Linked DNA regions of Homo sapiens: region 1 is linked to region 2. Evidence: fine-mapped expression QTL. Tissue or cell type: whole blood. Region 2 holds a variant in brackets; the other region holds the start of a gene. All regions are shown on one strand. Distances are between the middles of the regions.

Evidence for each region.
Region 1: IL15RA starts here. The variant in region 2 is fine-mapped to the expression of IL15RA in whole blood (TOPMed, PIP above 0.99).

Annotation. Positions count from the first base shown.
Region 1 is chr10:5,973,222-5,984,574 of GRCh38, reverse strand. IL15RA (interleukin 15 receptor subunit alpha) reads left to right here and starts at 7,032. Exons shown (of 7, transcript NM_002189.4): 1 at 7,032-7,170. The coding sequence starts at 7,083. It overlaps LOC107984200 (a long non-coding RNA gene), which reads right to left. Exons shown (of 3, transcript XR_001747348.2): 3 at 10,511-11,353. RefSeq lists silencers at 2,595-2,889, 6,269-6,938, 7,029-7,408 and enhancers at 8,299-8,378, 8,509-8,778.
Region 2 is chr10:5,937,629-5,948,897 of GRCh38, reverse strand. It overlaps LOC105376384 (a long non-coding RNA gene), which reads left to right and starts at 2,984. Exons shown (of 2, transcript NR_188180.1): 1 at 2,984-3,243. RefSeq lists an enhancer at 3,225-3,783. The variant T/C (reference allele first, on the strand shown) is at 3,731.

The DNA of each region.
Region 1 (11,353 bases), 36 kb before region 2:
GCCTCGGCTTCCCAAAGTGGTGGGATTACAGGCATGAGCCACCGCACCGGCTCTGGAGATAGGGTCTTTACCAAGACAATCAAGTTAAAATGAGGTCACTGGGATGGGCCCTGATCCAATATGACTGGTGTGCTTATAAGGAGACAGAATTTGGATGTCAACATGCACAGAGGCAGGATTCTGGGAAGAGACACAGGGAGAGGACAGCCATGTGGCAGGAGCAATGGCAAGGGAATGACAAGGACAGCTGGCAAATGCCATAGCCTGGATGTGGCCAGGAAGGACTTTCCCCTAGAGCCATCAGACACCTGCTGACACCTTGATTTCAGCCTTCCAGCCTCCAGAACTACGAGACAACAAATTTCTGTTGTTTCAAGCCACACGGTGTTTGGTACTTTGTTGCGGCAGGCTTAGGAAATTAATACACACAGAAAAGGCCAGGCGTGGCTGAAGTGTGGATGGGAGGGTCATACATTCTAAAGAGAGACTCCCATGTTGCTCCTAAAAAGGACCAAGCTGTTCATCCATGCAGCAGCTTGAATGGATCTACAGAGAATTGCACTGTTTGCAAAAGCTGACCTCGAAAGGCTACACGCTGGATGATTTCATTTATATAGCAAACGTTCTTGAAATGACAAAGTTGCAGAGATGGATAGCATTGTGGCTGCCGGTGCTGAGGGAAAGTGGAGAGAGGCGGATGGCTGTGGCTATAAAAGGGCAGCACAAGGCAGCCTGGTGTGCTTCATCTTGCCCTGCATCTTGGCCGTGGAGGGGCCACAACCCAACCGCCTGCAATGTGACAAAATTGTGTAGAATTACACACGCACACACGCATGTAACACTGGCAAAATTCGAATGTCTATATGTTGTATCCATGTCATTTCCTGGTTGTGATATTGTACTTTAGCTATTCAACATGCTACCATTGAGGAAAACTGAGTCAAGGGTATACAGGATCTCTCTGTATCATTACAACTACGTGAGAATCTCTACTTACCTCCAAACAAAAAGTTTTTTAAAGATACCATCAAGTCATATCAGTTTAACCCAGGAAAGTAGTCCCTATGGAATATGGATGAAATTAAGTATTATTTCCATCTAAATACAATTCAAGATGTTGGATCCTTTTGTTTTTTTAAGAGGTAACTGACAATCCGAAATAAAAATTCGAAATTTCATCTGGATGAACAAACATAAGAATATTCTTTAAAAGGATAGCAAAGAAACCTTGGGGAGGAGGAACTTACGGGGCAGACCATCCCCTGCAAGATTTGGAAACATGACAGAGCTATAATAACTGGCGGAGACTGTGGAACAGAGTAAGTATCCCAGTAATGGACTAATTATCTAAGTGAAAATAATTTATGGAAACAGTATTTCTAAAAAGGTTAAAAAAAAAAGAAGAGCCTTTGAGTGTACAATGGCATTCTAAATCAATAATTGGCCTTGGTCTTTTCCAGTTTCCTGCTAAAACATTCAATTTATACAATGAGGGAAAGTCTAGACCAGCACTGGACACTACCTGAAGCTTTTAGGAGTTATGGCAGAAAATAGCGCAGATAATAGCAGAGTATAGCAGGGTGTAACAGGGCGTAATACTATCTAACAGTTAAAATTAATGACCTACCACTACATGTATCAATGGAGAAATTAATGCTAAGGGAAAAAGAAAGTTTTGGAATGACATGACAGTGCAGGTTGAGTCTCCATTATCTGAAATGCTTGGAATGTGAAATATTTCAGAATTCAGATTTTTTCAGATTTTGGAATATTCACATATACACAATGAGGTATCTTGGGGATGGGACCTAAGTCTAAATATAAAATTCATTTATGTTTCATATGTACCCTATACACATAGCCTAAAGGTAGTTTCATACAATATTTTTAATAATTTGTGCATGAAACAGTTTGTGTCTATTGAACGCCCAGAAAGCAACGTTGTTGCCACTGCAGTCACCCACGTGAACATCTGCGGATGATTGGCATCACCACCATTCCTGACTCTGACTCTGAATTTATGGGCTACCCTTACAAACAATCGTTTTCTTACACTTATTCACACATGAGTACTTAACAGTAAAAAATATGACATAGCATTAAACCAGTGAAAACATAATGTGTTCAGGGTCACTAAGCAGCCCAGTGGTGTCATCAGAGACCTGGATCAGCCGACAGACAACAGCAACCACGACAGTGGGCTTCCATCTCCATCAATGATGCTGTGTTCTGATTAAACGATACTGTAGGCCGGGCTCGGTGGCTCATGCCTGTAATCCCAGCACTTTGTGAGGCCAAGGCAGGAGGTTCACCTGAAGTCAGGAGTTTGAGACTAGCCTGGCCAACGTGGTGAAGCTCCATCTCTACTAACAATACAAAAAAAAAATTAGCCGGGTATGGTGGCAGGCGCCTTTAATCCCAGCTACTCAGGAAGCTGAGGCGGAAGGATCACCTGAGCCTGGGAGCTCAAGGCTGTAGTGAGATGGAATCACGCCACTGCACTCCAGCCAGGGCAACATAGTGAGACCCTGCCTCAAAAAAAAAAAAAAAAAAAAAGGAAAAGTTCACTATAAGCTAAACCTTGAGCCTAGAGCACGTGCAGAACCCTGGAGAAGTTCCTACCCCCAAGGCAGGAGTTCGTAGCTAATAGCTTCTTGGGCTTTTGGTGCAGACTGGCTGGAGATTGGAGAAGCTACATCATGAGAAAGGGGCTTTTGTTCTCTTTTCTGGGCCGAATCAGGCAGCAGCAACTTGTAACCATCTGGCCATCTGCTGGTATCTTGTAGGGCAGCTTATCTTGCAAAAGCACTAGGTGCTGACGCAGGAGAGTTGCAAGCAAAAGAAGACTCTGCAAAAGGGTCCTTCAGGGCTTCGCACAAGGGGACAAGTTGGTACAGGGTCCTCATCTTGCTTACCCTGCCTCGAACACCCACCGTTCTAGTCCTTCAATGAGCCCATCGCATGCTTTCATCATGGCGCCTGCAGGTGCGTGTTCTGCTGTGATAACAGCATTATGTTCGTCATCACTGTTAGCACAAGCACCTTGGTTCAGAACCGTTTTGCCATTGTTCATCATCGGTCAATGAACGAACAACTGGAGCCACAGTATAGATGTTAAAAACCTGTATATCCACTTCGTCCAGCATGCTGACACACTCTGAAGGTATATTTTTTGCCTGCATAGGGAGGTCAGACATCATTTTTTTCCCACTTCACATATGGAATACTTCCATGTCATCACCTTGTTCATCATCATCACTGAACATAGTCGCAGACCAGAGGTTGTGCCATGCACGCATGGCTGTGTCGTTAGTCACTGAGTTCCAAGCATTGGAAACAGCATTGGCATCCTTCATGCTAAACACCTTTTGAAAACTTCCACACCCACCCCTCTGTTCACTGCTGCTAGCGTGCAATGTTTCCATATTTACTCTCCATTGATCTCCATTGATCTAAGGATACCCTGGTCACATGGCTGAAGTAATGAAGTCACATTTGGAAGAAAGCCCATGGCATAAACATTATTTTTAATGAGAGTTTCAGCTGGAGGATGAGCAGAATGGTTGTCAAAGAAAAACAAAATCTTGCAGTCATCATCCAGTCCACCCTCCCTACAGTGACACAAGCCACTGGTCCAAAATGTTTGTGAGACTAATCAGAAAAGATGTCCCTGATTATACATGTAATCTCAGCTACTCAGGAAGCTGAGGTGGGAGGATGGCTTGAGGCCAGGAGTGTGAGACCAGCCTTGGCAACATAGTGAGACCTCATCTCTAGAAATAAATAAATATCAGCCAGGTGTGGTGGTGCACACCTATAGGTGTGCTGTGTTGCCCAGGCTGGTCTCGAACTCCTGAGCTCAAGTGATCCACCCACCTTGGCCTCCCAAAGTGCTGGGATTACAGACGTGAGCCACTGCACCCGGCCAACATTTTCAACATCATTAGACCAGAGAGCAGAGAATAAGCAAAAATAGCACAGTGAGAAGTGCACAGAGGCGGGGCTTGGCTCCATATGGGGAATTGTCGGGACCTACCATGGGTGTGTTCGACCTGCACACAGGCCATTTTACCACCTTTTGTGTGCGTGCTTGCATGGGGGAATCTGGGCATGCACAGAAAAGATATCTCTCAGCTGAAGGCGGCTGGGAGAGTCTTTTTTCCCCTTGGGGATGCTGAATAAACAGTGTGTTATGTGCCTGTGTTTTGATTGCCACCCACCCCACGAGATCAGGTGTGGAATTTTCCACTTGTGGCGTAATGTCAGAGCTCAAAAAGTTTTGGATTTTGGACCATTTTGGATTTGGGATTTGGAGATCAGGGGTGCTCAATCTGTATGGTACTGTTCATATGAATTTTTTTTTTTTTTTTTTGAGACCGAGTCTCTTTCTGTCGCCCAGGCTAGAGTGCAGTGGTGTGATCTCAGCTCACTGCATCCTCCACCTCCCAGGTTCAAGCGATTCTCATGCCTCAGCCTCCCAAGTAGATGAGATTACAGGTGCGTGCCACCACACCCTGCTAATTTTTGTATTTTTAGTAGAGATGGGGTTTCACCATGTAGGCCAGGCTGGTCTCGAACTCCTGACCTCAAGTGATCTGCCCACCTCAGCCTCCCAAAGTGCTGGGATTACAGTCATGAGCCACCACACCCAGCCTTAATCACATGAATTTTTAAAAATGTAAGCCATCCTGTCCGTTGCACATGGACATACACATGGAAAAGGGGCCTAAGAATGCCTGGGAATGATGAGTACCAGTTTCAAGAAACATTTACCTGCGAGAAAGTGGAAGACGGAGGAAGAGAAAGATGCAAGAATACAAAGGGGCTTCAACTTTATCTGTAATTTTTTTATTCCAAAAAATATCTGAAGCAAACATTGAGCAGACATATTAAGTTTTGACAGGATGAGGCAGTAGGCTCATGGATATCCACTATATTTATTGATTGCTATAGTTCGAAGTATATTTGAAATTTACATTATTTAACAACGTATATATATGTAATGAAATAGAGTTCTTTAAGCATACCAAATTTACAATTTTATTTTCAAATTTTAAAATTTACTTTTGGTCAGAATGCAGTAAAATGGGTACTTTAACACAATCAATGCTAGTTAGAAGGTATATTGATACAAGACTTTTGGAAAGCAAGATAGAAATATTTGTTTAAAAGAGAAAAAGCCTTTAAAAATATTCCCTACCAGTTGACTCAATAGTTCCACTGTAGGAAATCTATTCTAAGCGATCTTAAATTCACAAGATTTTGTAGAAAGACATTTATGACAATGTTATCTTTAATATTAAAATAATAGAGGGGATGTTAAACTATGATAATTTGCAGCCATTAAAAACTTTTACAAAGAGTCTGTAATAATGGAGAAATCTCTACTTCATAAATGTCCATAGAATAAAAAATGCTCTATTGTATACATGCTATGCTTAGCCTGCATTCAATAAACCCTCAATATATTTGAGAATATTAAGGAATATTGTTAATTTTTAAATTTGATCTTATCATCTTGAGATTTATTATTAAGTATTGAGAGAAATTGAATAATGTGGGATTTCCCCAGTTGGAGTAAGGGTGGCTATTCCTGCTTAGAAAAAAAGAATGGACCTTGTGTGGTCACTGCCGGATGGTAGGTTCATTATTCTTTCTACTTTTTTTTTTTAAATTTAAGAGACAGGAACTGGCTGTGTTGCCCAGGCTGGAGTGCAGTGGTGCGATCTCAGCTCACTGCAACCTCAGCCTCCTGGGTTCAAGTGATTCTCCTGCCTCAGCCTCCTGAATAGCTGGGATTACAGGCGCCCGCCACCATGCCCAGCTAATTTTGGTATTTTTAGTAGAGATGGGGTTTCACCATGTTGGCCAGGCTAGTCTCGAATTCCTGACTTCAGGCGATCCACCTGCCTTGGCCTCCGAAAGTGCTTGGATTTCAGGAGTGGCCACCGCGCTCGGCCCTAAATTCTTTTATTTAACTTTTAAGTTCAGGGTTATAAGTGCAGGTTTGTTATAAAGGTAAACCTGTGTCTTGGGGGATTATTGTACAGATTATTTCGTTTTCAAAGAGAATTTGCAAGTATGTCACAAAAGCCTCATAAACACGTTGTGAGATTTTAAGAGGCAATGACCGAGGCTTGGAGATGTCTCGTCCTGTCCAATGTCACCGCTAGACCTGAGAATCTGCACTTGGGAGCTTACAGACCCGGTTCTCAGGCTTCACTTGAGACCCCAAGAAAGAAAAAAACCCACCAGCCAAAGAGGAGGATGGCAGCCTGGAAGAACCTAAGGAAGCGAGGCTCAGAGGTGAAGCACTGTGGCTCCTCTCCCCCTTCTCCCCCCTCCGCCCCCTCTCCTTCTAAGATGAGGCATTTTCTAGGGGAGCAAAGCTGCAGCAGGAATTCGGCGAAGTGGCGGAGCTGGGGCCCCAGCGGGCGCCGGGGGCCGCGGGAGCCAGCAGGTGGCGGGGGCTGCGCTCCGCCCGGGCCAGAGCGCACCAGGCAGGTGCCCGCGCCTCCGCACCGCGGCGACACCTCCGCGGGCACTCACCCAGGCCGGCCGCTCACAACCGAGCGCAGGGCCGCGGAGGGAGACCAGGAAAGCCGAAGGCGGAGCAGCTGGAGGCGACCAGCGCCGGGCGAGGTCAAGTGGATCCGAGCCGCAGAGAGGGCTGGAGAGAGTCTGCTCTCCGATGACTTTGCCCACTCTCTTCGCAGTGGGGACACCGGACCGAGTGCACACTGGAGGTCCCAGAGCACGACGAGCGCGGAGGACCGGGAGGCTCCCGGGCTTGCGTGGGTAAGGTCCTGGGTCCCCACCGGGCACGGCCCATGCGTCCCGGGGACAGGGGTGGCTGTGCGGTGCCGCGGCGGCCGGCGGGGCTCCTTCCCCAGCAGGGGTGGGGACGCTGAGTCACGGATCTGTCACCGCTTTGCACCTCTCCGAGCCCTCGGGGGCCAAAGCAAAAGCGAAAGCGAATGCGACTGGCGGGGCGGCAGGTCCCAGAGCAGCGCTCGCCACCTCCCCCCGGCCTGGGCAGCGCTCGCCCGGGGAGTCCAGCGGTGTCCTGTGGAGCTGCCGCCATGGCCCCGCGGCGGGCGCGCGGCTGCCGGACCCTCGGTCTCCCGGCGCTGCTACTGCTGCTGCTGCTCCGGCCGCCGGCGACGCGGGGTAGGGAGCTGGGAGCAGGGGCGCCCGGGCGGGACTTGGAAGGGGGCCGGGACGTGGAGCTGGAGGGAACCGGGCGCCCCATCTCCCCGGGCCGTGCGGGGGCGTCGGTGCCCTCGGGAGCGCGGTGCGCGCAGGCCCAGGCCGGGGAGGGGACGCGGCGCCGGGCAGGAGGGACACGTGCCGGGAGCCGGGGTCGCAGGGAGAGCGCCGCCGCTGCGCCCGGGTCACCCACGTAAGGGAGCGGGCGGCCTGGCTGGGGTCTCCGAGGCCGAGGTCAGGAGCAGTTCTGAGAAGCCCGTTTTGGCCACGGGAGCGCGGAGCCGGCGGCGTCCAGCAGTTTGGAGACACGGGCGAGTGCGCTTCTCCCAGGCGCCTGGACTGCAGGGCGGGTGTTGCATAGCACGCGGTCCTCGGAGGGGTCCGGGAGAAACTACTCCTCCCGACTCCCAGGCAAAAGTAAATTATGTCAGTGGGAGCTGGGAGGGTGGGGAGGAGCTGTGTCCCAGGGGGAAACGCGTCGGGCAAGTTGCACACCTGGGGACCTGGAAACAACTTCCAATTCTTAAGCGATCAGGAAACCAGCAGAGGCGGTCGGGACCGGATGGGGGTGGGGAGTGGGGGCCAGCCTGGAGTCTACACTCGCAGAAAAAGGGGGAAGAGATCTGTGATCGCTTGGTGTATTCGAGAAGAAAGCGGGTCGCGGAGCTCTGATCTCGGCAGGGAGGACGGAATGAGCGATTCCTAGGGGTTTTGTCCCGGCAGCCAGAGGAAGGAGGAAAACAGTAGCAGGGTCTAGCTCTATCCTTGTCAGCGCTTCTTTATCTTTTTATAGTCAGGGAGCTCTTGGAGGGTCTGATGAAAGCTATGAACCCCCGGCCCCCAGAAAAATGCATGAATGAACATAGTTACAAAATGTGCATATGATTTTGGGGTCAAAGCCCCACTGAAGGCCATCCATGGACTCTCTATAGGAATTAGTAACGCCATGATCTGTGTGTGTTTTTAAGCGAGACCCTGAATAATTTACATCCAGTCGGGCCAGTCTGCCCAGGCCCTGGCCAAAGCCATTCCACGCACAGTTGCTGCTGCCTGGTGTGGCCTGAACGCCCCCCCACCCTCTGCCACCCCCACCCCAGCTCTGCGAGGCTTCTTGAAGTTTCGTTTTCATGAGACTCTGATGCTTGGATTTCCCCCCACATCTGAGAAGCAGAGTTAGTTGGTGACCGGTTGGTTCCTCCCAGTTGGCTAGCAGTGTCACAGGACCCCATAGCTGGCAACTGGGGCAGCTGGATTACACAATATGAAAGTGAAATGCAGCCTTAGTCAAAGCCCAGCAGAGAGGAGGTGTCTTCCTTGAAGACTGAGTGGATAGGGGAGCACCACTGTGAGATCTCTGATCTCATCAGCTGCACAGCCTTGCCCTTTGACCTTAGAAAGATGTTGCTACCTTCCCTTCCCAAAGCTCTCAATGTTTTTTCTTTTTCTTTTTCTTTCTTTCTTGTTTTCTTTTTTGAGACGGAGTCTCACTCTGTCACCCCGGCTGGGGTGCAGTAGCGCGATCTCAGCTCACTGCAACCTCCGCCTCCTGGGTTCAAGCGATTCTGCTGCCTCAGCCTCCTGAGTAGCTGGGATTACAGGCGATCGCCACCACGCCCAGTAACTTTTGTGTTTTTAATAGAGACGGGGTTTCATCATGTTGGTCAGGCTGATCCAACATGGTGATCACTCCTGACCTTGTGATCTGCCCGCCTCGGCCTTCCAAAGTGCTGGGATTACAGGCGTGAGCCAGCTTGCCCAGCCGTTGTTTTTTTTCCCTTTAACAGCCTTATTGAGGTATAATTGACCGACAATAAACTGCATATATTGAAGTTGCACACTTTGATAAGTTTGGAGGTAAATGCATACATACTCATGAAACCACTGCCACCACCAAGAGTGAACACAACTATCACTCCCAAAGACTTCCTCATGCCCTGCACAGTCCTCATCTCCCACCTCGCCCATCTCCCAGGCAATTTGATGCACTTTCTAAAATTTTTTATAAATAGAATTACACGGTAGGAACTCTTTCTTGTTTGGCTTTTTTCACAGACAGTAATTATCCTGAGAATTTATCCATGTTGTAATTTGTATAAGTAGTTCATTAGTTTCTACCATTGAGTAGTAGTATTCTACCCATGGCTAGCCCATCATTTGTTTAGCCATTCACTTGTTAAGGGACATTTGGGTTGTTTCCAGTTTGGGACTATTACAAAGAAAGCTGCTATGAACACTGACATACAGGTTTCTGTATGGACACATGTTTTCATTTCTCATGGGTAGAGAATGGTTGGGAGTAGAGTGGCTGTGTTATATGGCAGGTGTATGTTTAATTTTTTTTTTTTTGAAACAATGTCACACCATTGTTTCCCAAGCTGGAGTGCAGTAGCATGATTATAGCTCACTGCAGCCTTGACCTCTCAGGTGTTTAATTTTTAATTTTTATTTATTTATTTTTAATTTTTATTTATTTTTAATTTACTTATTTTGAGACAGAATCTCACTCTGTTGCCCAGACTGAAGTGCAGTGGCTCCATCTCTGCTCACTGAAACCTCTGCCTCCTGGGTTCAAGCGATTCTCCTGCCTCAGCCTCCTGAGTAGCTGGGACTACAGGCTTGCACCACTACGCCCGGCTAATTTTTGTATTTTTAGTAGAGATGGGGTTTCACCATGTTGGCCAGGCTGGTCTCGAACTCCTGACCTCAGGGGATCTGCCTGCTTTGGCCTCCCAAAGTGCTGGGATTACAGGTGTGAGCCATTGCACCTGGCCTCAGAAGTTTAATTTTTAAAGAAACTGCTAAACCATTTCCCAAAGTTGTTATACGATTTTACATTCCCACAGCAGTGTAGGGAAGTTCCAGTTCCTTCACACCCTTGTCAGCTCTTGGTATGATGAATCTTTTTAATTTTACCCATTCTACTAGGTATGTAGGGGGTCTCCCCTTGTAGTTTTAATTTGCATTTTTCTACAGCTGGTGATGTTATGTGCTTATTTGCCATGTATATATCTTCTCTGGTAGTATCTGTTTATATTTTTTTTGCTCTCTTAAAAATTGAATTGTATCAGCTGGGTGTGGTGGCTCACACCTGTAATCCCAGCACTTTGGGAGGCCAACGCGGGCAGATCACTTGAGGCCAGGAGTTCGAGACCAGCCAGGTCAACATGGTAAAACCCCTTCTCTACTAAAAATACAAAAATTAGCCAGCTGTGGTAGCCCATGCCTGTAATGTCAGCTACTCAGGAGGCTGAGGCAGGAGAATCGCTTGAACCCTGGAGGCAGAGGTTGCGGTGAGCAGAGATCGCGCCACTGCACTCCAGCCTGGGACACAGAGCGAGACTGTCTTTTTTTTTTTTTCTGACTCTGTCTTATGTATAAAAAATTGAATTGTATCATTACTGAATTTTGAGAGTTCTTTATATATTCTGGATACGAGGCCCTAATCAGGTATATGATTTGCAAATATTTTCTCAGATTCTGTGGCTTATCCTTTCTCTTAGCAGTGTCTTTTGAAAAGCAGAAGTTTTTAATTTTTATGAAGTCTAATTTATTAATTTGTTATGTTGTGTTTTGGGCTTTTGGTGTCATATCTAAGAAATATTTGCCTAGCCTAAGGTTACAAAGGTTTACTTCTATGTGTTCCTCTAGAAGTTTTATAGCTTTAGGGTTTACATTTATGGCTGTGATCCATTTTGAATTAATTTTTGTTTATAATGTGAGGCATGAATTAAAGGTTGTTTTGGGATTTTGTTTGTTTCTATATATGCATATCCAATTATTCCAGCACCCTTTATTGAAAAGATTATCTTCACTGACCTTCTCTTATACCTTTTGAACATCAGTCAGCCATATGTGTCTAAGTTGGTTGCAGTATACAAAACACCACTACACAAAAATCAGTTCTATTTCTATACATTCACAATGAACAATTAGAAATTAAAAAACTTTAAAAAGTCATTTGAAATAACATTAAAAAGCATTAGATACTTACGGATAAATCTAACAAAAGATGTGAAAGACATCTTTCATATATGGAAAACTACAAAGCATTGCTTAGAGAAATTAAGGAACAAAATCAATGGAGAGATATACCATGTTCATGGGTTGGACAAATCAATATCACTAAGGTGCAAAGTCTCCTTCT
Region 2 (11,269 bases):
TTAAAATGCATTAAAAGAATCACCAAGGATGGCCGGGCAGGGTGGCTCATGCCTGTAATCCCAGTACTTTGGGAGGCCGAGGCGGGTGGATCACCTGAGGTCAGGAAATTGAGACCAGCCTGGCCAACATGGTGAAACCCCATCTCTACTAAAAACACAAAAATTAGCCTGGCGTGGTGGTGAGCGTCTGTAATCCCAGCTATTTGGGAGGCTGAGGCAGGAGAATCACTTGAACTCTGGGGGTGGAGGTTGCAGTGAGCCGAGATCATACCCCTGCACTCCAGCCTGAGAGACGCAGCGAGACTCCAATTCAAAAAAAAAAAAAAAATCACCAAGGAGAAATGTTCCACACAAAGGAGGAGAAAGAATGGGAATGCAGAATTCCACTGGGGCTCCTCCATCCTGTTGGGGTGCCTCATCACCCACTGACACAGACGGGCTGACCTCCCCTCTCCCTGCTCTCCCCACGCGTGGGCACCTGGCCTGGGCGTGGCCTCCAGGGCCTCTCAGCTAGACTACAAAGCTGTTGAATACAGAGAATGAAGAGCACAGAACTCACAGGGCAGTGGCCAGCAGTGGCCTCAGAAGCTCTGACTGGCTGCTGGGCCTCCTGTTCTGGGCTCTCCAGGCGTCTTTAGGTCCTAACCATATTCCAAACCTAAGCCTCCCATTTTCCGGGATTCTATGAGCCCCTCGTATCTTTCCAATACATTTTTTTTTCTTTATAACAGATTCTGTTTTCATTACTTGTCACTGAAAAGTTCCTAGCTGATATGAAATTCGGTACCAGGAGTGGGTATTGCAAATTATGGAGAAGAGGGGAGATAAGGAGTGTCTGCGGCTGGTTATCTGCCTTAGGGACGAGAGAAAAGAGTGAATGTTCTGATGATATGCAGAGACAGGAATGGAGCGGCCCAGGGAATTCGGTAATTAGTTCGCCAGGAGGTGCCTGGGATGTCATGCCTGCTGCAAGCCTGGCTCTCAGAGACTATGTTGCGTCCATCCTGAAATCGTATGGATATGAGAAATCTGAGCCCATAGTGGGTAGCTGCTTTTAATGTCACTGAAAAACTTAGAGAATAAGAAGTTCAAATCTCTAAAGTCTGAATTCAAGCCACAGGCTGAAACCTAAAGACTGCCTAGAACAACGCGGAATTTCATTCCTTACAGATGCGAGGCCAGGATATCTGAAAACCCATCTTAAGAGTCTGAGCCTTTGGCTGGGCGCCGTGGCTCATGCCTGTAATCCAAACACTTTGGGAGGCCGAGGCAGGTGGATCGCTTGAGTCCAGGAGTTCAAGACCAGCCCAAACAACATGGCGAAACCCCTGTCTCTACAAAAAATACAAAAATTAGCCAGTTGTGGTGGCATGTGCCTGTAGTCCCAGCTACTCAAGAGGCTGAGGTGGGAGAACTGCTTGAGCCCAGGAGGTAGCAGTGAGCCGAGATCATGCCACAGCACTCCAGCCTGGATGACAGAGGAGACACAGTCTCCAAAAAAAAACAACAGTCTAAGCCGTCAAGTTGTTGGAAGAACATTAGCTGAATCCATGGCCCCAGCAGGTTTCCCAGCTGAAGGGAGAGCACTGATTGGAGAAGGGCGAGGTTCCTGTACTGGATTAAAAATGTAGGGGGACATTTGGAGGACTCACAGGATCCCCCACCCTCCCTTGTCCTCAGAAGCAGCCCTCTGTTCTGCCTGACAATGCTGCAACATTGCCTCCTGCTCGAGGGGGGCATCTTGCAAAAGGAAGTCTGTTCTGCTGACAATTTCCTCCCCCTGTCCCATTCTGCATGGGGAGAAAACTTTGCTGAGAATCCCAATCAGACCCTCAGGATCCCAGGAATCAGCCTGTTCCGTGGAAACAAGAGCTCCCCAAGGCTGGGCCGGGCCCTGCTGCAAGCACCTCCACCCCCACGTCCCACCTGCGGCCTCCTCACAGGCCAAGCCCGTAGCCAATGCCCAATGCCCCTGTCCTTCCTTCACAGTCTCCTACATCCAACTCACCTTCCAGAACCAGATCAAGTTTACCTTCTCCAGGAGCCTCTGTTGTTTCAGTTTTGGAGGGTTTTTTTTTTTGAGACAGAGTCTCGCTCTGTCGCTCAGGCTGGAGTGCAGTGGCACGATCTCCACTCACTGCAACCTCCGCCTCCCGAGTTCAAGCGATTCTCCTGCCTCAGCTTCCTGAGTAGCTGGGACTACAGGTGCGTGCCACCATGCCCAGCTAATTTTTATATTTTTGATAGAGACAGGGTTTCGCCATGTTGTCCAGGCTGATCTGGAACTCCTGATCTCAAGTGATCCACCCGCCTTGGCCTCCCATAGTGCTGGGACTACAGGCGTGAGCCACCATGCCCAGCCCCGGAGCCTTGGCTAATGACTCAGTTGTACAAAATCATTTGCCTCTGAGCCTTCATAACACTTATTATCGGTGCTATTCATGTGGCATCTGCAAAATACTATCTTTGTGCAGTGGAAAGAAGATAGAACTTAAAAGCCTGAGTGTCGAGCATCCATTCTACCCTTTGCTGAGCATCCATTCTACCCTTTGCTGGCCCTGTCACTTGGAGACACTACACACACGGACATTGCCTCATCTTTGTAGTGGGGATGACGGCACATGCACTCCCTTCCCAGAGGCGTGAGGGTCACAGGAGACCCTGGCGTCTGTCTCTCCCCTCGCTAGCCACTAGAGATCCTGACAGTTAAGCCTGGTACTAATCCTCAAGAAGTTTACAGCCTGGTCAAAAAGAGAAGCATACCGGAACAAATATGAAACAAAACCTTACACCACAAGCACACACACTAATGGGACACGAGCCCAGTAAAGGCAGAAATGGCTCCAAGGCCTGGAAGCTTGAGGAATGCAGGATGTGAGTTGGAAGGATGGGTGGAATTTAAATAAACGGGCAGGGAGCATTCTAAATGGTGGGGGGGGGCGGTGGAGGCAAAAACCCAAACAGGAAATTGAGCAACACGTTCAGGAAAGACAGAGCATGGCTGCTGGGCAGCCAGGTCAACCGGACGGCAAGGCAGGGGTTGGCCGGGGAAGCACTGCGCCGCCCCTGCATGCCCTGCATCCTCGGGTCCTGGGAGGGCTGCTCAGTAACTGGAAGGAAAATGAAACTGAAAAAGAGCAAGGGTCCCGTAGGATTGAACACAGTTGGTGAAACTTGGGCCGTCTGCCTCAAGTCCCCGCTTGGCAAAACCACTCCCTCCTGGTGGACGCCCTCACCATGAAGGTTAGTGCTTCTCTTTCTGAAGCTGTGTCTTCATTCCTCTGGGCAGAGAGCCAACAGTCCTAGTTACAGAAGTGTATAACTGGGTGCCATGGCTCACCTAGGGTCCCAGCTACTCAGGAATCTGAGGTGGGAGGATCGCTTGAGCCCAGGAGCATGAGGCTGCAGTGAGCGGTGATCGCGTCACTGCGCTCCAGCCTGGGCGACAGAGTGGGACTCTTGTCTCCAAAATAATTCAAAAATGGGGTGTAATCTTCAAAATCTCCTTGGAGTTAATGCCACCCAGAGGGTACTCAAATTGCTGTCAGTGTCCCGGGGCTGCAGTGGCTGCAGGTGTTTTCCAAGTGTTCTGGGAAGCCCTGGTGGCTGCAGAGGCACCTGAGGGGCCACCACAGGCGGGAGCGGAGAAGGAACTCTGGGTGCCCATCCCCCTCCTGAGTGACCACAGCGGCTGCATTTGTTAACTGGAAGTAAAATTAAGCCTAAAGAA[T/C]TCCATGGCTAAGAACATCTGAAAGCCTTCCATGCTATTAAATATTTATTTTATTGTTCATCCTGGACTCCATAGGCAGATGCTTTAAAAAAACAAACAAACTGATCTTTTGGAAGAGTTCTAACTCCAACTCTTCACACAGTGGTAGTGGAAATACTATGGGTTTGGGATTGAACTTGAGTTTTCATCCAAGCTCTGCTCTGTGATACTGAGCACAGTGGGCCCAGCCCCGTGACTCTTTAGAGCCTGTTTCTTCATCTGCAAATGGCGGCTGTCATCTGCCTCCCAGGTTTGCTGTGAGGACTGAAGGAATTCACATACACAAAGGCCTGATAGCGTCTACCTGCAGGAGGCTCCTAATAAACGTTGAGTTCACTTCCTTAATGAGGTATATTTACTTACATGGTAATCAGCACCTGCCCCTTCCTTCGCAAATACATTCCCACTTTTTTAGGATTTATTATTTCACCCAGCCGTGTGCATCATGGAAAGCTGACCTCATCCCAAGCTCCAGGAAATAAAACCCTGATGATTTGAAGCCATTCTTCCTTACTATGATTGGCTTAGGAGTGGGCAGGTAGCCCAGTTCTGACCAACAATATGTGAGTCAGCTGGAGAAGCCTGTGGGAAAGGCTTTCTTGCGCCTCTTCCCAGACAAAACCAGGTCCAGCTGCTTGTTCTCATGGTCCAATAACAAGCTGCAGACAGAGTGGGGAAGAAGGGAGTTTATTTCTGGTTACAGGGAGAAGGTCAGAGTAACTCACCAGACTAATTTAAAATTATAAGTTTTTTTTCAGTGCTTATACACATTTAAACCATATGCCTATGTGCAGGAGTACACCTCCAAGCTGAAGTATATTCCTCTGTTTAATCTTTCACTAGGGTCTGGGGTCTGGAAAATTACTTCAGAGCCTTGAAACAATTACTTCATTTTTTTTCTTTCTTATTTTAGAGGGAGGGTCTCACTATGTTGCCCAGGCTGGTCTTGAACTCCTGGGCTCAAGCGACCCTCCTCCCTCAGCCTCCCAAAGTGCTGGGATTGCGGGCGTGAGCCGCTGCTCCTGGCCCAATTACTTAATTTAAAGTGGATCATGGTACAAGGTCCACAAGAACGCCTCCATTATTTTAATTAAACTCTAAGGTCTGGGAGAAAGCCCAGGTGGGGTCTTAATCGACTTGTTTTTACACTCTAGCCTTTGTATTAAGGCACCAGTTTCTCCAATTTTCCTCGTTTAATTTATATATTCCTCAGAGTTATAGTAAGGTGTTGGTGAGGCTGGCTGCTCTGGTTGCTAAGAGAGACCCGGCCTGCCACACTCCTAAGAGACACAGAAGACCAGCCTACCCTTCCCTTGCCTCCCGTGACACTGCCCTGCAGGTGGCTGGCCAAGAGAAGCCTGCCCGGCGACGCTGAGGCACCGAACATGAGCAGGGGAGGAAGGAATGCCTGGGAGCAGCTGAGCCGAGCCCCTGCCACCAGCCTCCTCCGCACGCCCGTGGAATCAGCACTTTCTGCTTCCCGCCCCTGAGAGCCTTGCTCTGGGGCCACTCACAGCCAATTAAGTGGGGATGTTGTAAGAGACTCTAAAATACGTGGAGCTGGCTGAGGACGCGGGACCGACCCCATTATGTGTGTGTGAGGCTGATTAAAGTGTTACCTGTCACCAGGTGTCGCCAATTCTTGGTGAAGCTCTCTCCATGTGACCTCCATGCTACTTATTTTTTATTTTATTGTTCATCCTGGACTCCAAAGGCTGATGCTATTTTTTTTTTTAATGTGATCTTTTGGAAGAGTTCTAACTGCAACTCTTCACATAGTGGTAGTAGAATATACCATGGGTATTAAAAACTAAAGCATTTCTTAATCTGTGGGGTCCAGATTAGGAAGACATGTATTAGGAAAATGATTACTTTAAAAAAAATAAAAAATTCAGGCCAGGCATAGTGGCTCACGCCTGTAATCCCAGCACTTTGGGAGGCTGAGGCAGGTGGATCACCTGAGGTCAGGAGTTCAAGACCAGCCTGGCCGACATGGTGAAACCCCGTCTCTACCAAAAATACAAAAATTAGCTGGTTGTGGTCACATATGCTTGTAATTCCAGCTACTTGGGAGGCTGAGACAGGAGAATCGCTTGAACCCGGGAGGCAGAGGTTGCAGTGAGCGGAGATCTCACCACTGCACTCCAGGCTGGGTGACAGAGTGAGGCTCTGTCTCAAAAAAAAAAAAAAAAAAGAAAAGAAAAAAAAATCAGAACCACTGAATTGTACATTTAAAAAAGGAAGAAAAGAAAAATCCAGGATGTCAGCACTGTGCTGGCCGCTTCCTGGGGCCCTCAGTGAGTTCCTTTAAAAGACAGGCTTAGGGTGACAGAGGCCAGCCTGGAAATGGACAGGAAACGCCAGCCTTTCCGCTGCGGTCCAACTTGGGCTGACGCCCTCATCGCAACAGGAGAGCCCTGCAGGGTTGAGGCAGGAGGGTGACCGGCGTTAGTCTTCATTGTAAGATTGCAGGTCCCTCTACATGGGAGCGAGTTGGGCCAGGGCAGAGGCACAGAGCAACATAGACTACAACTGGTCCAGGAGGCAGAACGGTGGAGGGTCGCGGGCGGGTGGGTGGTGCACCCTGGAGGCCGCGTGGAGCTTCCCAGTGAACTGGCATGAAGAAAAGTATCACAGCCCGATGGTGGTGCTGTTTCTGGAGGTGGGGAAGGGTGCGTGGAGGAGCCAGCCAGGCTCGGAAGGAAATCAGGGGCTGCATGTGGGACATGGCAGGGCTGAGATGTCACGAAGACAGCAAATGGAGTGATCGACTGGCGACCTTGGCGTTTGAGTGGGAAGCCCCCCTCCCTCCACCTAACCTACCTCTCAGCCCACGCCACTAGGGATAAAACACACACAGGTCCCCAGTGAGGAGGATCGCAGGGGACGGCACCTCCTGGGCCCTCATGGAGAACCTGTCCCTTAAGTAGGCCAGGCAGAGGGAGAGCCCCTGCCGGCTAAGGGAGCCCTGCCCCCCACACCAGCCCAGCTGTGCAGAGGTGCCTTGGCCAGGGGCGTGCGTGTAGCACTGTCTTCATGTCTGGGCAAGGAGCTGGAGGAACCCTGCCTGCCTCGGTTCAGACGTCTCTACCGCACCCACTCACTGCAAATGTAGAGTGATCAGCTTCCAGGCTCTCGGTGTACCCCACATTGCTAAAGCCAGGGGTTCAGGGTGACTAGGAAGGACTGAAGGGCAAGGATCAGACTTGAAAAACATGTTAAATTGCTAATAGTCTGATTCTAGGGGTGTCAAAGTCCCTTTGTGATACAGTGAGTTGCTCCCAGACACAGACCAAATGCCACTACAGGACGGAAGCTGGGCAGGCAGCGTGACAGTGACCAGCTTCCCAGGCAGGAAGGTCCCACGGGGGTGCTGCACTGCCTTAAGTTTATTAAGCTGTGTCTGAGTCCACCATGCGACGTCTCTGCCCTCATGCCTGGGCTGCTAAAGGAAAAATACCAGCTAAAAGGATGGTGTTTGATGTCAACTGGGAGGGTGCTGCCCGGCACACCTGTGTTTTCCGTCACCTTCCACTCCATTCCCTTCTATGTCCATCCCAAACGCTAAACCCAGCACTTTGGGAGACTGAGGCAGGTGGACAGCTTGAGCCCAGGAGTTTCAGACCAGCCTGGGCAACAGAGCGACACCTCATCTCTACAAAAAATAAGCAAAAATTAGCCGGGCATGGTGGCATGCACCTGTAGTCCCAGCTACTTGAGGGGCTGAGGTGGGAGGGTCACCTGGGCCTGGAGGTCAAGGCTACAGTGAACTGTCACTGCACCACTGCACTCCAGCCTGAGTGACAGAGTAAGACCCTGTCTCAAAAAAACCAGAAAATTATTGGGTGAGAGCAACCTAAACTTCCTCCCTAACCACTTACAACGTACCCCTTTCTCCTTCATCTCTCCCGTCCCAATCCCTCTCATCTGGCTTCCATCTCTCCTCTCTGAATTTGCTTCCTCTCAACACATAACCCTGCACAAACCTCTCTCGTTTTAAAAGCAAAAACCCCTCCCTAAGGCCACGTCATCCCCTATCCACTTCTTGCCTCTTGCCAGCCTTGCTTTCTGAGAACTAGTCTACGTGGTGTCCGTATCTTCACCTCCCACTGGTATTTTATGGTTCTATCATACAGACACATAGTTTAGAGCCAACAGTTATGTAAGACACCTACCAAAAAGCTCCTCCACCTGCCCGTTCCCCCTCCCAAAAGGAAACTTTTAGAAATCTTTCTGCTGAGTGTCTCGGTGTGTGTTATGCATCTCCAAGATATCTCTAAATGATGGGCTCACATGGGCTTCTGCTTCCATGTTTGAGTTTCAGGCACTGTGACTGACTTCCTGCCGCAGAGGCTAAGATTCGGCTCGTTCACTCCACATGTGCACACAGCTCCTACCTGCAGAACACGCCCACCCTTATGAAGGCCATGAAAGCAGGTACACTCCACTGAGCTGGTGGTGGGGGGGGTCAATTACAGTTCTCTCCTACACAACCTGTCGCCTTCCAGAGGACTAATCATTGCCTTTTTCCCCCCAGGCTACGTCCTGCGCTCTGTCACCCAGGCTGTGGTGGTCAGTGGTGCAATCATGGCTCACAGCAGCCTCAACCTCCCAGGCTCAAGCCATCCTCCTGCCCCAGCCTCCCAAGTAGCTGGGAACAAGGCATGCGCCACCACACCTAATTTTTTATACTTTTTGTAGAGATGGGGTCTGCCTATGTGGCCCAGGTTGGTCTTGAACTCCTGGGCTCAAACAATCCTCCCACCTCAGCTTCCCAAAGTGCTGTGATCACAGGTGTGAGCCACCACGCCCGGCCAATGTGGGCCTATTTTCACCCATTGTCCTGGGCATTTAATGAGTCATTTCAATCCAGAAACCCTTACCATCAGTTTCAGGTAATTTTCATAATTAAAAAAAATGTTTCGGCCAGGTGCGGTGGCTCACGCCTGTAATCCCAGCACTTTGGGAGGCCGAGGTGGGCAGATCACGAGGTCAGAAAATCGAGACCATCCTGGCCAACACAGTGAAACCCCATCTCTACTAAAAATACAAAAAATTAGCCGGGCATGGTGGCATGTGCCTGTAGTCCCAGCTACTCAAGAGGCTGAGGCATGAGAATCGCTTGAACCCAGGAGGTGGAGGTTGCAGTGAGCCGAGATCAAGTCACTGCACTCCAGCCTGGGCAGCAGAGAGAGACTCCGTCTGAAAAAAAATTAAATTTAAAAATTCCTTAACTCTGTTGTCCATTTTCTCTTCCTGCAATTCCCATTCACAGATGCTCAACTTCTTAAATTGGTTCCCTAGTTTTTTTTTTCTTTTTTTTTTTTTTTTGAGACAGGCTCTCGCTGTGTCACCCAGGCTGGAGTGTGGTGGCACAATCTCAGCTCACTGCAACCTCCACCTCCCGGGCTCAAGCCATTCTCCAGCCTCAGCCTCCTGAGTAGCTGGGATCACAATCGTGCACCACCACACCCAGGTCATTTTTTGTAGATGGGTTTTGCCATGTTGGCCAGGCTGGTCTTGAAGTCCTGAGCTCAAAGCGATCCACCTGACTCAGCCTTCCAAAGTGCTGGGATTACAGGCATGAGCCACCACGTCCAGCCTCTAACTACTTCTCAATCTTTGTTTTTGCTCTACTTTCTAGATTCTCAACTTATTATTTTAACAGTTCTACTGGGTTTCTTTTCATATTTTTTGCTCCAAAATTTTATTTTATTTTTATTTTTTGAGACGAAGTCTTACTCTGCGTCCCAGGTTCAAGAGATCCTCCTGCCTCAGCCTCCTGAGTAGCTGGGATTACAGGCACATACCACTACACCCGGCTAATTTTTGTATTTTTAGTACAGGGTTTCACCATGTTGGCCCAGGCTGGTCTCGAAATCCTGATCTCAGATGATCCACCCGCCTCAGCCTCCCAAAGTGCTGGGATTACAGGCGTGAGCCAATGCGCCCGGCCCCAAATATTATTTTATACATATCTATCCTGCTACTCTATGGAATGCACTACCTCCTCCATTCTCTGAATGTGTTAAAGATATTTAGATGTTTTCTTCTCCCTGTACAGACAGTTTGCTCCAAGTTGATTCTTTGGTTTTGACCTCTAGCCTTCATCTTAGGGGCCGGGTCATCTTCAGATGTTTGATGATCCTGATGCCTCCAGGATCACTGCTGCCTCCTTCCTGTTGTCTTTGCCCTTAAGGGTTAAAACACACACACACATACACACACACACAACTTTTACTGCCCTTACAGTATGGCTTCAGAAAGAAACCATAAATGAACACATACTTCTTAGCCCTCAAATTTTTCACTCACATTTTAGGCCACAGTGGTCGGCTTCTCACCTAACTGAAACTGATCAGCTAATGTCAACTGACCTTGATAGTGCTGGTTAAACACCTGCCCACCCTTGTTTATTTGGTCTATTTACTGCACTGGATGCTGAAGATCCCCTTTTCCTGAACTCCCTCCTCTCCGGAGCTCAGTGGTGCTCCATCACGAGGCTCCTCTGGATCAGCTGTCGCTCTTCTTAAACCCTCTTCCTCTCTTCACCCCAAGCCTCGTGTCCGCCGGCTTTGCTTCTCGGCCCTCTGCTCTTCTCATTGTCTAAACTCTCCTGGATTAACTCGGCGAAACCCTTCAAACTGCACCACCACCTACACACCGACAACTCTATAAAGTCCCCAGGTCCAGCCAGGCCCTTTGCTGCAGGACAGATGTGTTCACCCAACAGCCTCCTAGACGGTTCCACTCAACATGCTGAAAACCAAACTGATCACTGCGTTTACACAAACCTGCTATAGCTCCCATTTTCCCTGTCTCAGTGAAGATGACCTCTACCACTGAGTGTCCCTATCATGATCCCAGTACTCCAGAAATCCGACCGATTCTACCTTCTAAACATCAAGAGCAGAAGTTTCCCAACTTAGCATGCATGAGCATCACTTGTCAGGCTTGTTATGTACGAACAGCTGGGCCTCAACCCTGGAGTTTCTGATCCTGTAGGCCTGGTGTGGGGACTGAACATTTTTATTTCTAACAAGTTCCCAGGTGATGTTGCCGCTGCTTGCTGGAACCACACTTTGAGAACCACTGATCTTCGCATCCGTTCCCTCCTCACCAGGCCCCACAGGCGCTGTGGTCCAGCCCATCTGGGGTCATTTCTTGCTGAGATTATGATCCTGTTAGCCTTGTAATTTATCTGACCTCCTTAAAACATTATTGTTATTTGAGACAGTGTCCCGCTGTCACCCAGGCTGGAGTACAGTGAGCTGTGAGGTGACCACGGCTCACAGCCTCAACCTTGGGCTCCAGCAGTCCTCCTGCCTTGGCTGGATTCAGTGCTGGGGTTACAGGTGTGAGCCACTGCTCCCGGCCAAAGTCTCATTTTTGATGCCTCAGTTCCCACCCAAGACATCACGTCTCATACTCTGCTTCCTGTGTCTTGTGAACAGTGACAGTGCTGTAGGAAAGAGTAAGCTGGAAAAAGAGAAGGTTCAG